2 linked regions of the Homo sapiens genome follow. The protein of the gene in region 1 purifies or fractionates together with the protein of each later gene. This does not show direct contact. Each region holds a gene or a part of one and is shown in the gene's direction. Other genes may lie near its edges.

Evidence for each region.
Region 2: the proteins of ASB16 (region 1) and SPDL1 purify together in Homo sapiens (affinity purification with mass spectrometry; 2 studies listed by BioGRID and IntAct, with this or other methods). This does not show direct contact.

The regions. Positions count from the first base shown.
Region 1 is NC_000017.11:44,164,991-44,174,111, forward strand, and holds the start of ASB16 (ankyrin repeat and SOCS box protein 16), read left to right. Parts: upstream 1-5,713; 5' UTR 5,714-5,799; coding exon 5,800-6,100; intron 6,101-7,055; coding exon 7,056-7,323; intron 7,324-9,121. UniProt on the Homo sapiens protein: May be a substrate-recognition component of a SCF-like ECS (Elongin-Cullin-SOCS-box protein) E3 ubiquitin-protein ligase complex which mediates the ubiquitination and subsequent proteasomal degradation of target proteins.
Region 2 is NC_000005.10:169,593,194-169,601,403, forward strand, and holds part of SPDL1 (protein Spindly), read left to right. Parts: intron 1-160; coding exon 161-355; intron 356-951; coding exon 952-1,101; intron 1,102-1,200; coding exon 1,201-1,299; intron 1,300-1,377; coding exon 1,378-1,488; intron 1,489-3,367; coding exon 3,368-3,508; intron 3,509-5,282; coding exon 5,283-5,386; intron 5,387-5,778; coding exon 5,779-5,966; intron 5,967-8,086; coding exon 8,087-8,210. UniProt on the Homo sapiens protein: Required for the localization of dynein and dynactin to the mitotic kintochore.

The DNA.
Region 1 (9,121 bases):
ATATCTACACAGGTTTTTGTTTTTTTTTTTTCTTTTTGAGATGGAGTCTCGCTCTGTTGCCCAGGCTGGAGTGCAGTGGCACAATCTTGGCTCACTGAAAGCTCTGCCTCCCGGGTTCACACAATTCTCCTGCCTCAGCCTCCCGAGTAGCTGGGACTACAGGCGCCCGCCACCATGTCCAGCTAATTTTTGTATTTTTAGTAGAGACGGGGTTTCACCTTGTTAGCCAGGATGGTCTCGGACTCCTGACCTTGTGATCCGCCCGCCTCGACCTCTCAAAGTGCTGGGATTACAGGCGTGAGCCACCGCACCCGGCAGTTTATTTGGAATTCTTCTGCATGGGAGATTTGCCTATTCTCCCTTATTTATTCATTCATCCATTTATATCAGCATGGACTTACAGGTATTTATTTTATACTTTGGGATATGATCTCAAACTACTTAATTTTGTTGCCAAGTGTGGCCAGGCGTGGTGGCTCACACCTGTAGTCCCAGCACTTTGGGAGGCCGAGGCAGGCGGATCACGAGGTCAGGAGATCAAGACCATCCTGGCTAACACAGTGAAACCTTGTCTCTATTAAAAATACAAAAAATTAGCCAGGCATGGTGGCGGGCGCCTGTAGTCCCAGCTACTTGGGAGGCTGAGGCAGGAGAATGGTGTGAACCCCGGAGGCGGAGCTTGCAGTGAGCCGAGATCGCGCCACTGCCTCCAGCCTGGGTGACAGAGCGAGACTCCATCTCAAAAAGTAAAATAAAATAAAATTTTGTTGCCAAGCAACTCTTCATTGCTGTGACTTCTCTGTACCAATTTTCGGACTAGAGGTGGACAAGAGGCATGGGTGGGGTGTAAAAGGTCTAATTATACCAAGTTGCCAACCTTGTTTTCCTTTCTGGAAGGAGGAGTTGGGAAAACTCTCCCAACTCATGGGCAAGAGGAGGCAGGTTAAAGAGCCCGGTTTGGGCCAGGTGTGGAGGCTCATGCCTGTAATCCCAGCACTTTGGGAGGCCGAGGTGGGAGGATCCCTTGGGCCCAGGAGTTCAAGCCCAGCCTGAGCAAGGTGGTGAGATGCTATCTCTTGAATAAGTAAATAAAATAATAAATAGCCCTGTTTGACAGCCAGCCCCTCCTGCCTTAGCCTCAGCCTGCACTAAGCAGCTAGGAGACAGAGGCCTTCCATGGGCATGGGCTTGGCACTCCTCTGGGGGGAAGCGTTAATCTCCTTTTCCCAAAGAGGCTGATCCCATGGATTCCAGTTTTGTTGTTGTTGTTGTCGTCGTTTTAGAGACATGGTCTCACTCTGTCACCAAACTGGAGTGCAGTGCAGTGGTGTGATCATGGCTCACTGCAGCCTCGATCTCCTAGGCTTAAGCAGTCCTCCCATCTCAGCCTCCCAAGTAACAGACTACTGGTGCGTGCCACCACGCCTAGCTAATTAACAACATTTTTCTGTAGAGATGGAGTCTTGCTGTGTTCTCCAGACTGGTCTTGAACTCCCGGGCTCAAGTGATCCTTCCCACCTCAGCCTCCCAAAGTGCTGGGATTACAGGTGTGAGCCACAGTGCCCCACTGGATCCCAGTCTTAAGGCTGAAGTGAGTAAGTGCTTTGAGAACTCCATGTTCACTTACCTGCTGATTACAGCAGGGCCCTGTTCTAGAGGCTTTTGTGCCACAAGGCCAGGGCAAGAAGGGGCTAATTCCCCTGCACCCTGGTCCCTTCACATTCCCATTGGGTTTTTCTACCTGAACCTACCATACATTTCCTTCTCTCCCACCTTCCACTCCCTGCTAACTCCCCATCTACACTGGGATCTTCCTGCACCTAAACCCCCACAGCTGGGAGTGGCAGCATGCACCTGTAGTCCCAGCCACTTGGGAGGCTGAGGTGAGAGAATCACTTGAGCCTAGAAGATTGAGACCAGCCTGGGCAACATAGGGAGATTTCGTCTCTAAAAAAATAAAAGCTCCCCTCTGCCCTGGGCCTATTCCCCATTCTTGACACCCATGAGCCCCGGTCCCCCTGCTCAGTCCTGATCAATCCCACGCTCACATCCTGGCTTCTTGTGTGCTTCACTACCCCACAGGCTCTGAGATCCCAGAAGGCAGGCTGGGCATCTGATCACCTGGCCCTGTTCCCTCCAGGTTGAAGTCAAGGCCTCCTTTCTCTGCCCTCAGGAAGCTAACTCTACAGACAAGGGGACTGAATACAGTGGTATCTTGGGACTAAGCTGTTAGGGTACCTAGCTCCTTCAGGTCTGTGTGGCAAGAAGGCAGGGGAGGGGCTAGGCTATGACTCTTGTGTGCCTCAGGGAGGAAGGGGACACCCACCTGCCTTGGCCTCTCTTGGTCTCACCCAGCCTTGCCAGATTCTCAACCCTGGGAACCCAGCTGTGGGTGCCCAGCCAGGCCGTTGATGTGGCAATTAACACACCAAATGGGTGCCAACAGGGTTCATCAAGGCTGCATTTATAGAGGCATCTTTCTCTGAGGACCTCCAGGCTTTGCTTTGTATGATCTAATTCCTCCTCTGGGATCCCCCACCCTGGACTGCCACCAAGAGGCTGGAGCCAGGCAGAGAGTAGGTGAACAGTAGAGTAGGGGCAATGCCGGAAAAAGCCCAGGCTGCTGCCACCCACTTGGGCGGGCGGGTGGATGGATGTTTGCTCTGGCAGAGAACAGGGACCTTCGTTCAATGCACTACACATAAGAGGCCCGCCTGCCATGAGCCAAGTGCTCTGACTGCCAGGGCCTGCTCTGGAGCCCACATCCAGCATGGCAGACCCACATCAACAGCATAGATAGGTGCTTTACAGCGTGCCCCTGAGTCCTTCAGGAGTGCAGATTGGGCAGTGGCTGGAACTATAAGAGTCAGGCAATGGGTTGCTGAAGAGACCTCTCAGAGCAGGTGACCTTAGGGGTAGATCCTCAGGAAGGTGTTGAGGGAATTCTGAGCTAAGGGAATGGCCTGACAGGGAACGGTTGTGGGGAGCCGTGCGTGATGAGGATGCCTACCCTACGTGAGTGGCATGGGGCCAAACCAAGGAATTGGGGGCTTAGTTGAAAAGGGCAGGCCAGGTGCAGTGGCTCACACCTGTAATCCCAGCAATTCAGGAGGCTGACTTGGGAGGACTGCTTGAGGCCAGGATTTGGAGCCCTATTTTAAAAAAATGAAAGGACAGGTATTGGAAGGCAGCAGAAGTTTTTAAGCAAGGGAATTAACCATTTTAGACAGATCATTCCGGCAGCGGAGCAGAAGGGATATGGCCAGAGGAAGAAACACCAGGTGAAAGACTGAGTTGATCCAGGTTTAAGGCATTACATCGAGGGGCTGAACTTGAGACAGTCCCTGAAAATGTAAGAACAGGAGCTAGAACTTGCTTATGGGAAGGGCCTAGGGAGAGGAAGAAATAAAAGATCACTGGGCAAGGTGCTGCTGCAGGGCCAGGAGGCAGGACAGGCAGCGGGAGAAGGGCCAGGAGGAGCCCCAGATGCAGAGGGGACAGACCAGCCCTGCCTGCAGGCCGCTGTGCACTGAGTGAGCTCAGGGTGAGCAGAGCTTTTGAGCCCTCCCCTTCCCCAGCTTGGCAGGCACACCAGCTTGTGTGGTTTCACGGCTTCATTCCTCCCCCTAGAGGCTCCTGGAAGCACAGCTGCTTTCTCCTAAGAGTGAACAGGTCTGTGGCTTAAACATCTTAGGTCCATTCCCAGAGTTTCCAGCTCAACCCCTTGGCTCTCCTCAGGCCGGCCATGTGAGCCCCCTTAGCAGCTGGGTTAAAAAAATAAATCAAGGATGATTGAAGGTGCTGGGAGCTGTGGCTCACGCCTGTAATACCAACACTTTGGGGGGCCGAGGCGGGCAGATCGCCTGAAGTCAGGAGTTTCAGACCAGCCTGGCCAACATGGCGAAACCGACTACTAAAAATACAAAAATCGGCCGGGCGCGGTGGCTCACGCCTGTGATCCCAGCACTTTGGGAGGCCGAGGCGGGCGGATCACGAGGTCAGGAGATCGAAACCATCCTATTCTTGGCTAATACGGCGAAACCTTGTCTCTACTAAAAATACAAAAAATTAGCCAGGTGTGGTGGCAGGCGCCTGTGGTCCCAGCTACTCGGGAGGCTGAGGCAGGAGAATGGCGTGAACCCGGGAGGCGGAGCTTGCAGTGAGCCGAGGTCGCGCCACTGCACTCCAGCCTGGGTGACAGAGCGAGACTCCATCTCAAAAAAAAAATAATAATAAATAAAAATACAAAAATCAGCTGGGCATGGTGGCATGCACCTATAATCCCAGCTACTCAGGCAGCTAAGGCAGGAGAATCACTTGAACCCCAGGAAACGGAGGTTTCAGTGAGCCGAGATCACCCCACTGCACTCCAGACTGGGTGACACCATGAGAAAAAAAAAAAAAGGATGATTGAAGGCAGTTTCTACAGACTAGTCTGTCCTGCTTGGAGAATGGGGGAGGCTGCCAGGTGGCTGCAGCAGCTGAAGGCAAAAAGTGTACCATCTTTTTTTTTTTTTCTTCTTTTTTTAAGAGATGGAGAGGCAGGGGGTGGTGGCTCACGCCTATAATCCTAGCACTTTGGGAGGCCGAGGCGGGCAGACCACGAGGTCAGGAGTTCGAGACCAGCCTGGCCAACATGGTGAAACCCTAAATTAAATCTCTACTAAAAATACAAAATTTAGCTGGGCATGGTGGCGGGTGCCTATAATCCCAGCTACTCAGGAGGCTGAGGCAAGAGAATCGTTTGAGCCCGGGAGGCGGAGGTTGCAGTGAGCCAAGATCGTGCCATTGCACTCCAGCATGGGAGACAGGGTGAGACTCTGTCTCAAAAAAAAAAAAAAAAAAAAAAAAGATATAGGTCTCACTGTGTTGCCCAGGATTGTCTCAAACTCCTAGGCTCAAGCAATCCTCCTGTCTTGGCCTCCCAAAGTGCTAGGATTACAGGCATGAGCCACCATTCTTGGCCCAAAGCACACCATCTATGTGGGGTCCTGGCTCTGCCTCTCACAAACTGTGACCTTGAGCCAGTAGATTACTTTGTTAAGCCTTAAATTCCTCATCTGTAAAACAGAGATAAGACCACCCATCTCAGGGGCATTCAACTGTGATAATTTCATTTATTGTCCAAACCAAGTTTACTAATTATTGGGTGGGCTGGGAAGTATGATCCCCTGGGTGAAGGTGGATATGAATGTGATTTAAACACCGTGAAACTCTGTGCATATGTACAGAGTTATTGCTGTTACTGCAGATGCTGGGAAGAGCTGCTCACCTTCTCAGTAACTCTGCCTTGACCTCCCCTTACCTCCTGTGCTGAGGTCAGCCCTCTCTCCTCCACGTGGGCCAATGGTGGCTCCTGCCCTCCAGCCAACATCAGAGAGGCTGGAGGCACCTTGTCTTCCTCCCAGCCCTGCCCATCTCCATGACTGACCTTTTTGCGCACCCTGGACCTTGCCAACCCAAGATGCTCGCTCTAGAGATGAAGGTGGATGCAGATGCTGGGGTTCGGGGGTGGCCTCAGCTGAGGGCCTGCTGACCAACCAAAGGGTATCGGCAGGGGCAGGGGCTGGCCCTCACCCTGGGCTGGGGGTTGGGCCAGCAGCTTCTCAGCACCAGGATCATGACTCTGAGCAAACCATGTTTACCAGAGCAGCAAAGGACCTATTTATAGCCTCAGCTGCTGCTTTCTCTGGCTCACGGTGGCGGGGGCAGGGTGGCTCCTCAGAGCAAGGGAGGTAGTCGGGTCGAGGGAACCTGGCTCTGCCCAGGTGCCACTGCCCAAACCCCTGGGCCCCATCCATGGCAAGAGAGACCTTCCCCTTCACCTCCTCCATGCTGCGCTCTCTCCGCCTGCAGCAGGAGTGGCTGGAATGGGAGGACCGGCGGCGGGCGGCTGCCCAGCAGTGCCGGAGCCGCAGGTGCCCGTCAAGTCCCCGGGCCCGACTCACTAGGCCTCACCGTTCCTGCCGAGACCCAGCTGTCCACCAAGCCCTCTTCTCCGGCAACCTGCAGCAGGTCCAAGCCCTGTTCCAAGATGAAGAGGCCGCCAACATGATTGTGGAGACTGTGAGCAACCAGCTGGCCTGGTCGGCTGAACAGGGTAGGGGGCACCAGAAGAGGGCAGAAGAGGAGGGAGAAAGAAGGGGAGTGGGTGGGGAAGGGGGAGAGTCTAGGCCCCTCCTTCCCTGCAGACCACAGACTATAGCAGCCCTTTCCACCACCTATCCTAGCTCCCTCCTAAACAGAGATGAGGCAGGGTTAGCAGTCTGTATGTCTTTTAAGAATTAAAAGTTGACCGGGCACAGTGGCTCACGCCTGTAATCCCAGCACTTTGGGAGGCCAAGGCAGGCGGATCACGAAGTCAGAAGTTTGAGACCAGCCTGACCAACATGGTAAAACCCCATCTCTACTAAAAATAGAAAAATTAGCCGGGCATGGTGGTGCGCACCTGTAATCCCAGCTACTCAGCAGCTGAGGCAGAAGAATCACTTAAACCCGGGAGGCGGAGCTTGCAGTGAGCCAAGATAGCGCCACTGCATTCCAGCCTGGGGGACAGAGCGAGACCCTGCCTAAAAAAAAAAAAAAAAGAGACAAGGTCTCACTATGTTGCCCAGGCTCATCTCGAACTCCTGAGGTCAAGTGATCATCCCGCCTTGGCCTCCCAAAGTGCTAGGATTACAGGTGTGAGCCACCACCCCAGGCCCCAAGGTGAACAAGCCTTTGACACTATTAGCCATTCAAAGACGCTGAGATTTCCTTAATGGGAGTCACTCTACTTAGTTGGCCCCTGTGGTTTTATACAGCAATTAATTTTTTTATGACACATACTATGTTTTGTTACAGATTGATAAGCTGTATTAAAAGGCTGTTCCAATTTATTCTTCCACTTCAGGACTTGAATAAGCCCCCTTCCACAGGTACAGCCTGGCAGTGTTTGTGCTCAGCAAACCATGCAGAGGGAAGGCCAGTGTCAGCTGTCAGCTGGAACCAGCATCCCCACTCCCTGCCCTGCCCTGTCTTATACACCACCTCCCAAAACTATTTGCTCTCCCTAGGGTTCTGGGTGCTGACCCCCAAGACCAAGCAGACGGCACCCCTCGCCATCGCTACAGCCCGAGGCTACACAGACTGTGCTCGACACCTGATCCGGCAGGGAGCTGAGCTGGATGCCCGTGTCGGGGGTCGCGCTGCCTTGCATGAGGCCTGTGCCCGAGCCCAGTTTGACTGTGTGCGGCTGCTGCTGACCTTCGGAGCCAAGGCTAATGTGCTGACTGAGGAGGGCACGACTCCTTTGCACCTCTGCACGATCCCCGAGTCCTTGCAGTAGGTGCCTGGGGGCTGAGACAGTTTGGGGAGAAATGTGTGTGTGTGTCTCCAGCTCACAAGGCCAGAAGAGGGAACCTGACAACCACATGCAGCTTTGTGGTTCATAAAGCACCGCATATACACATCTTCACAATAACCTGGAGACACCTCATCCTACAGATGAGAAAAATGAAGCTCAGAAAGGCTTAGTAACTTGTCCAAGGTCACATCTGCTAAGCCCAGGAGGCAGAAGCCCTGTTGCTTTTTGGGAAAACTCTGTTCCAACTGCAGTCTCCAATACCCTGTGAATCCTTTGTAGCCAAACCTAGCTGTTTTTTTTTGTTTTTTGAGACGAAGTCTTGCTCTGTTGCCCAGGCTGTAGTGCAGTGGCGTGGTCTCAGCTCACTGCAACCTCTGCCTCCTGGGTTCAAATGCCTCAGCCTCCCAAGTAGCTGGAATTACAGGTGTGTGCCACCACACCTGGCTAGGTTTTGCATTTCTAGTGGAGATGGGGTTTTGCCATGTTGGCCAGGCTGGTCTTGAACTCCTGTCCTCAAGTGATCCACCCACCTTGGCCTCCCAAAGTGCTGGGATTACAGGCGTGAGCCACCATGCCCAGCCCAAATTCCTAGTTGTTTTGAGGTATTAAGAAAGATCTGGCCAGGTGTGGTGGCTCACACCTGTAATTCCAGCTACTAGTAGGTCGAGGCACAAGAATCGCTTGAACCCGGGAGGCAGAGGTTGCAGTGAGCCGAGATTCTGCCACTGCACTCCAGCGAGACTGTCTTAAAAAAAAAAAAAAAAAAAAAAAAGCCGGGCGCCATGGCTCACGCCTGTAATCCCAGCACTTTGGGAGGCTGAGGCGGGTGGATCACGAGTTCAGGAGTTCAAGACCAGCCTGGCCAACATAGTGAAACCCCGTCTCTATTAAAAATACAAAAAATTAGCCAGGCTGGGCATGGTGGCTGGCGCCTGTAATCCTAGCTACTCGGGAGGCTGAGGCAGGAGAATCGCTTGAACCCGGGATGCAGAGGTTGCAGTGAACCGAGATTGTGCCACTACACACTAGCCCCTGCAACAGTTGAGACTCCATCTCAAAAAAAAAAAGACCTATGGGCCAGATTCAGTGGCTCACACCTGTAATCCCAACACTTTTGGAGGCGGAGGCAGGAGGATTGCTTGAGTCCAGGAGTTTGAGAATAGTTTGGGCAACGTAAGTGAGGTTTTTGTCTCTACTAAAAATAAAAACTAGCCGGGTATGGTGGCATGAGCCTCTAGTCCTAGCTACTCGGGAGGCTGAGGCAGGATGATCTTTTGAGCTCAGAAGTTCAAGACCAGACTGGGAAACATAGTGAGACCCTGTCTCTACAAAAAATAAAATTAGCCGGGCATGGTGGTGTGCATTGTAGTCCCAGCTACTCAGGAAAAGCATTTGAGCCCAAGAGGTCTAGGCTTCAGTGAGCTATGATCATGCTGCCACTGTACTCCAACCTGGACAACAGGGCGGGACCCTGTCTTAAAAAAAAGTGGGAAGAGAGGTATGGGGGTGCCTCACACCGATGTTAGGAAACACAGGGCTAGATTTTTTTTTTGGAGACAGGGTCTCACTCTGTTGCCCAGGCTGGAGTGCAGTGGCACAATCATGACTCACTTGCAGCCTCGATCTCCTGGGCTCAAGTGATCCTCCTGCCTCAGCTTCCAGGGTAGCCGGAATCACAGGCCAGTGCTACCACACCTGGCTATTTTTTTTTTTTTTTTTTTTGAGACGGAGTCTTGCTCTGTCTCCCAGGCTGGAGTGTAGTGGCCCGATCTCGGC
Region 2 (8,210 bases), on another chromosome or scaffold:
CAAGGTGTGTCACTAGCTGTTAAAAGATGCCTAACCTTGGGCAAATAGGAAACTCCAATAGTATCATCATTCAGTAAGTTTGGTTCAATCAGTTCAATCAGTGATTGTTTTTAGAAAGAAAATAACTTTCAATTTATGACTTTTTTTTTTTTGGCTTTAGATAGAAAAACTGAAAGTGGAATTAGATGAAGCCAGGCTTAGTGAAAAGCAGCTGAAGCACCAAGTAGATCATCAGAAGGAACTCCTCTCTTGTAAATCAGAGGAACTGCGCGTAATGTCTGAACGTGTGCAGGAAAGCATGTCTTCAGAGATGCTGGCTCTTCAAATTGAGCTGACAGAAATGGAGAGTATGAAGGTAATTTTTATGGCATGTGTTTCTCAGGGTTTTCTCTTTTTTTTTCTGGCATATTTTTACATGTTTTGGTAATAATTCTTAAGAGCTAGTTTGAAGGCTGAAACATTTTTTGACCTAACTTGCATCTAACTAATTAAAAAATGGGTTTTTTTTAGGTGGATGACTTCATTCATAATATAGCTTTAGACTATATGATTATGTAAGGCAGCCTTTCTCTTAGATTAATGAAACGTCTGGAAGAATTTAGAGGCATATACTCTGATCCCAGATTTTATCGTAAGAGCCCAGTGTAAAACGTTGGCTCAGTGGAAGTTGAAATGCATGTGAACTTGGTTTTTTCATTGAAAGCTAAGGTTAATTAAAAATTAAAGCCTGAAATTGATAGAGGAAAAAGGGCAGTCTCTAAAGCCATTTGTTTCCTTGTTGAAAAATTTAACAGTAATAGTAATTTCTATTATTTTAGAATGTACCTGACAACTTTTGACTGGTTCTTTAGTTTTAATTTTGGATGTGAACCACAACTGAGATAAACTGAGCAGCTGCCAAATGAAAGATTATTCAAGAGAATTTCCTCCTTTTCAATTCCTGTTAAATAGACCACCCTCAAAGAAGAAGTGAATGAACTACAATACAGACAAGAACAGCTAGAACTTCTTATTACTAACCTAATGCGCCAGGTAGACCGGCTTAAAGAGGAAAAAGAGGAGCGAGAGAAAGAAGCAGTTTCTTACTATAATGCCCTAGAGGTACTATGATTACAGTAACATCATGTTTTCCAATTTATCATAACTTATTTTCTTGCTAATGTAATCTCTGTTGCCTAAATTGTTTTCTTTTGAATTTAGAAAGCTCGTGTAGCAAATCAAGATCTTCAGGTACAGTTGGACCAGGCACTCCAGCAAGCCTTGGATCCCAATAGTAAAGGCAACTCTTTGTTTGCAGAGGTACTTATAAGTATCCTAACTACTAAATTGGTATTTTCATTTACTACCAGAACAATTAAGCATGTTAATATTTTGTAGGTGGAAGATCGAAGGGCAGCAATGGAACGTCAGCTCATCAGTATGAAAGTCAAGTATCAGTCACTAAAGAAGCAAAATGTATTTAACAGAGAACAGATGCAGAGAATGAAGGTATAGAACTTTCACTATCAAAGGTTTATTAAACAAATTTTGTGTCAGCATTACATGTATGAATACATCAAAGAAACTAGCTTTTTCTGCAAGGAGTGTACTTATATAGTTGTTTCTAGAACTGCATGATTTCAAAAAATCAATTTTGAAATTAAAAGATTCATTTATAGTTTAAAAATCTTGGAATAAATATTTAGTAATAGTATATTTAGCAATGATTATTGTTTGTTTTAATGGTTACTCACTAGCTTTGACTTAAATCTTTCTTTGTGGAGTAGAAGAAAGAAAAGTATTTATTTCTTATTCTTGGCCTGATGTCTTTCCAAGCATAGCCCTAGGGTTCCTACTTCAGCTGAAACTCGCTGCCTCACCATTCCTCTGCTCTTTCACCAAGGCTTATTATGGAGTGAAATTTGGATTATTCAGGGTTCCCTTTCCTTGTAGCTCCTCAAGTCAAGCACATAGACCCTTTTAATTTTACGGGTTTTGTTGGTTGTCATTCTAGCCAAATAAGAGGTAGCAGAAAAACATGTGGGAATTAGAAAGATTTCAGTATTGTAACAGTCCTTAGAATCCTGATCCCTCATCCATTGTGCCTCACTCTACTGAGGTAGTAATTGGAATCTGGAAAGGCTTCCTTCCTTTTATTCAGAATCATGGGCTTTGCCAAAGAAATGGGAAAGGTTAATGATTAAATTTGGGAGTTAGGTGGATTTGGGTTTGAATCATAGTTTTGTCACTTGCTAGCTCTGTGACCTTGGACAAGTATTTTAACTTTGAAAGCAACAGTACCTCATCTATTAAGTGAAGATGATAGAACCCCCTCTTAGAATTGTCCTACAGTTAAATGAAAGTGTAGTAAAATACTTAACCTGCTACTTGGCAAATGAGTGTTTAATGAACAACAGCTGTGAATTTTATTTCTAAGGGTTTCCAGACTGTGCTGCCTCATTTCCTGAGACTCTCCCCTGTCTGGGAAGTATTTCTTTATAAATTTTCTCACGTTTACTTTAGTTTTCTTACAGTATTTGTTGGGGTTACTTTTAATCTACCAATGTTGCATATGTCCCAAACTATCTTTAGAGACTAGAAGCATTCTGAGTCTTAGGCTAAGTGGGCCTAGCCTCCAATCTGAAACAGGAACAAAAAGGATATCCTTTAAAATGTTAAAAGTCATCTGCAACCTCATATCATTGATTGTTTTACTCAAAACTATATTTAAACTAATAGGCACTCTTTTCAACTCCAGAAATTTCCAAAGGCAGAAAGAAATGCTAGATTTAGAGTCTACTTAATTTCCCTCTGGTAGCTTCACAACTCCAGATTTGGGGTGGGGGAGGTATAATGAGGTAAGTTGAGTGCTGCTCTAAAAAAATTAAAACATGGTATATTGAAGATTACCCCAGTATACTAAGATAGCCTTTTATCTTTGCTTTTAACGTCATTTGTGAATCTAACATTTGTGGCTGTCAGTAGCTTAGTTTTCCTCACTTAATTAAAGTTAATTAAAAATTTTGAGAAACCCATCAGAACCTTAATAAGAGCGAGTGCTTATGATAAGCAGTCTGCAGCGTTTGGCCAGGCTTACTTACCAGTTCAGTGGTGTGCTTTCAGACCACAGCCATGCAAGTCAGTTTTATGTTTCACAAAAGTACAAATAATTACATTACAGACTTCAGTTATCATTCATAAGTAGTCAAAATAAGTATTCAAATGTTATGTCTACAAAAAAATTTATTATTAGATTAGAAATAGCTAATTTAGTTTCCAAAATGAGTTCAAAGTAATATAGTACAAATTATGAATTGTATCAAAAAAGTAGTTATCAGAATCTTTCTCTCACTTAATTTTATTAGAGGGGGTAATTTTATTTTTCTAGTTACAAATTGCCACGTTGCTACAGATGAAAGGGTCTCAAACTGAATTTGAGCAGCAGGAACGGTTGCTTGCCATGTTGGAGCAGAAGAATGGTGAAATAAAACATCTTTTAGGTGAAATTAGAAATCTGGAGAAATTTAAGGTATGTATAACAGTTAAAAAAACACACATCCAAATTTTGATTTGAATATCTTAAAATTTGGTTTGTTTTTTAAGTTTAAATTATTAATAAATATCTTGTGGGAGATACTTTGAGACTAAGTAAATGGCTGTTTCTCCTTATACTTAAACATCCATTGGTGATTCTTGCCTGAAACATAATTCTGTGATGATTGCTAAATGGGTAATTCCATCACTTCTTCTATATTTATTAGTTGGAATTTTAGTAAAGGGACAGAAAAGAAAAATCTTTTTCCTCACTTACTCATTCATTTATATCAGTATAGCCTCATGGATTCTTATTTTATCCTATGAGTTATAATCCATTGCTTGCTTTATTTACTCTGATACTCAAATTGTCCCAGATTTGATAGTCGAAGTGCTCTTACTTGAATATTTCCTTACTCTATGGCACAACAAGGGTTTCCTAGCTCACCTGGCCCACTTCTGGGATTAGCATTTCTTCAAGGAACATTGGTTTATTTTAGTTGAGAATGGTATTTGTGTAAGCATTTGTGTGTGTGTGTGTGTGTGTGTGTGTGTGTGTGTAAGAATTCACCCATGTTTTCTAAATAAGTAGGCAGTTGTCCCAGAGTCATTTGTTAAAAAATCAATCTTGATCCCAGTGATTTGAGTTGACACCTTTATCATACATCAAGTTTCCATATATACTTGAGTCTGTTTCTAAATTTTCTGTCTACGCCATTGGTCTGCTTCTCTGTGTGTCTGTACCACACTGTTTTATTAATTATAAAGGCTTTTAAGTATGTTTATCTGGTAGGACTATTTCCTCACTATACTTTTTATTTTTCAGTATTTTCCTGTCTATTTTTGAATGTTAGCTTTCATTTACAAACATCTTGTCTAGCACCAAAAAAAGCTTGTTGGCTTTCTATTAAAATTGCATGCAATTTAAGATTTTATAAATTGACTTAGGGAACATTGATATCTTCATTAACCTCCTAATGAACTAAAGTTCTAAATGACAAATTTTTGTAAATGTTAATAACCTCTTAGGCATTCTAAATTGTAGCCATTAGTATGTCATAAAATCTTAATTAAGTTTACATAACTTTATTTCTGTGTCTTATAAAAACTGTTGAAAGAACTACAAATTTGGTTAAGTTGGCAGCCTTATGTTTCCATCAGTGGGCTCAGAACTATACTCTGAAAATTATGGCCTTAAATCAGGGGAATTTTATTTATAACCTGAAATTGTTTCAAGTTTTTAAGCAGATTTACCTTTTCTATCCCACTAGAGAAATGTATAGTTTCCATCAGTCTCAGAAGAGCTTGCACTACATTCTTGCCTGGGGTGGGGGGAAGAATCTCAGAAGAGGGGGACACCAGATATAAATGTAAGGCTCTCATCTTCCTTTCATATTTTTCCAGTTTATGGTTTTGTTACAAAGGCCAGAATTTAATCCAGCAGGCATTTGTTTTTCTATTTTCAAAGCCAGGAGAGAGAAGGCAGAGCATGTAGGTAAGGCTAGAAGCCTAGGCCTTGTAGTCAGATTTGGGTTCAGGTTCTCTCTTCTTGGTTTACTTTCATCTGTATTCGGAGCCTGTTTCCTTATCTGTAAGAGAGGAATGTTAATTATTTACCTACTTCAGAAGGCAGATAAATTAAATGGGTAGTTCTTAGCGTAGTACGCCAAGGGATATAAATTCAGGAAGTGATGGTGCTATTATTAATAAACATACACTAACCTTATTTGTTATTTATTTTAAGTAATACAAACTTTTGCTTTTTTAAGAATTTATATGACAGTATGGAATCTAAGCCTTCAGTCGACTCTGGTACTCTGGAAGATAACACCTATTATACAGATTTACTTCAGATGAAGCTGGATAACTTAAAGTAAGTGTCTGGGTTGGTGGATGGAAAGATGAACATGTCACTTGCTTACTATGGTAGTGTCAGTGACTACAAAGTTTTTTTGAAATTGCCAAAGGAAATTTTCCGAAAAGAAAGGTAACAAAAATATCTTTGTGCAGATATTCATGTGTGAATACATTTGAAAGACTATTTCCTCCTTTGTCCATTTCCTTTCAAGAATGCATGAGTATTTTTTAAATTTAACACTACTATTGTTAAGGATTATTTAAATTGTTTATTGTTTCTTTGTTACTAAAAACCCCAGAAAAATGTATTTTTAACTAAGAATTCAAATATGCGATGAAATATTTATACCACTACACTTATTATATGCTGTCTTAATACTCGTTGGTTCTCCTTTTTTATTATCATAGCAAAGAAATTGAAAGCACTAAAGGTGAATTGTCCATACAGCGAATGAAAGCATTATTTGAGAGCCAGCGGGCTCTAGATATTGAGCGAAAACTTTTTGCAAATGAAAGATGCCTCCAGCTTTCAGAAAGTGAAAATATGAAACTGAGAGCTAAACTAGATGAATTGAAACTAAAATATGAACCTGAAGGTATATATGTCTCATATATTTTTGTCTTTTAAATTATGAGTAACCTGAAATTATATCAAATTATTTTCTTACTGTAGTTTTATGCAACTCTATTACAAACTCATTTGTAGTTATATACCTATAGTTAATAAAGCAAATTTATTGTGTAAAATAGGTAGGAAAATTCAGGGAGAACTGGATACTGGGTGTGCCTGAATATAACATGTATCCTTTTTGGATATCTAATTTCATCATACTGTATAGTAGAAACTTGAGATTTGAGACTTTCCCATTTTAAGATTACAGTATTTTATGTCATACCTAATAGTTTAATTATGTTGAAGCAGCTGATGTTTGGAAGCTATACGAGGTAGGACTGTTTATAGAAAATCTAAAGTAATGGAGACTTTAAAAAGGTGGGTCTTTATCTCTGCCTCTGATGGAAGTCTGGAGGAGGCCTTCCAGGACTGGGAAAGCACTCCACGGTATCAAGATTCAGGCTTCTTGTGTTTGTTGGTCTGCTGCCATCCTGTGGAGCAGAATTTAGTCATGCAGCCTCACCTGCTGACAGGAAGGGCTGAGAAATGCAGTCTTGATTCTCAGGGGCCATGTTCCTAACTAAATATTGGGAATTCTTTTATTAAGGAAGAACAGTGAGCCAGGCGTGGTGGCTCGTGCCTGTAATCCCAGCTCTTGGGGAGGCAGAGGGAGGAGGATAGCTGTGCCCAGGAATTTGAGATTTGCTTGGGCAATATAGCAAGACCCCATTCTCCACCAAAATGGGGGGGAAAGGAAAGAACAATGAAACATATTAGGGAATATCTAGCAAGTCTAATGACTGAGCTGGAAAGTAGCCTAACCATACAGTCTCTGCATCTTATATACTACAGAGAGTGAAGTTTACTGTATGTAAATTCAAAAACAAAAGGCCAAGTGTGAAGGAGTCTAAGAATGTGATGGTTCTACAACACCCCTTCCCTAAAAGAGTGTTACATGTTTTAGGTTAAGGATTCTCAACAAGTTTTTGTCCCCGCACTCTGCACATGCCTCAGTCTCTCTTCGTATTGTCTCAGTGAACTGCTATGATTCTCAACAATAGTGGGGAGGTTGCCAAAAATAGGAAGGTTTTTACACAATTTTAAAAGGCTTCTCTTGCTCTTAACTCTTTTTGTTTCTTCCATGATTCTAATAGGCTCCCCTGATTAAGAATTATCCATTATGAATTTCAAACATCTGTTGAACTGAACACAGCAAATAGACAGGAGGCAGGGTAGTGAATCCTGATAATGTGGGTTTCAAAGGAGCAGTGCCAGAAAAAGGGGAAATCATGGTCTAAAAGCAACAATGTAGAGCAAAAACAGCAACCCCTTGTGCTACCAGTGTTCCTCAGACTCCACTAACATTTTGATTTTGAAAATGAAACACATCGATAATGGGCATAGGGAAAAGATATTAGAGCAGTTAATTCAGTGGCTGTGTTTATGACCTGTTTAGATAGAATGATATTAGGCCATGAGGATAGAAGGCATTGCAGTAGTCTTTGATGAGACATGATAGGATTGGACTAGGGAAGTATCCATCATAAAAGTAGTCTGATTCTGCTTATATTTTGTAGGTAGAGCTAACAGGCATATATTACCAATATTCAGAAAGTTTGGCCTATTCTTGTCATTTAATCCTTCTAATACACAATACCAAGTGAAGTGGGTGCTTTTAATCCCCATTTTACAGATAAAATGAAGCTCAGAGAGGTTAAATAATTCCCCAAAGACATGGCTGTCACATACGAGGATTAGGATTCGAACCTGGACTCTGCCGCTGTCTCTTCATCTCCACACTGAGATCTTATGAACCACCTTTTTCAAAACACCAAGAGAGAACAGTGAAGCATTCATGCCTAAAGTCAAAATATTGAATTCCCAAGGAAAAATATATAGCCAAATAAACTTTAAAATATATAGTTTATATAGATTCCATGATAAAGAATAAAAGGTAGAAACAAAGGATGCATTTCAGTGAGGAGATGGTTGCATTTTAAAAGAATGGAAAAAGGTATACATATAACTAGTTCTGGCTTCTTGTGTTGATTGTGTCTTTGTTTTCTTAGATTTTTTCTTTTCCCCACTCGTTTTTATTCTCAGAGACAGTTGAAGTGCCTGTACTGAAAAAGAGGCGTGAGGTGCTCCCTGTGGATATAACCACCGCTAAAGATGCATGTGTCAACAACAGTGCTCTCGGGGGAGAAGTTTATCGATTACCGCCTCA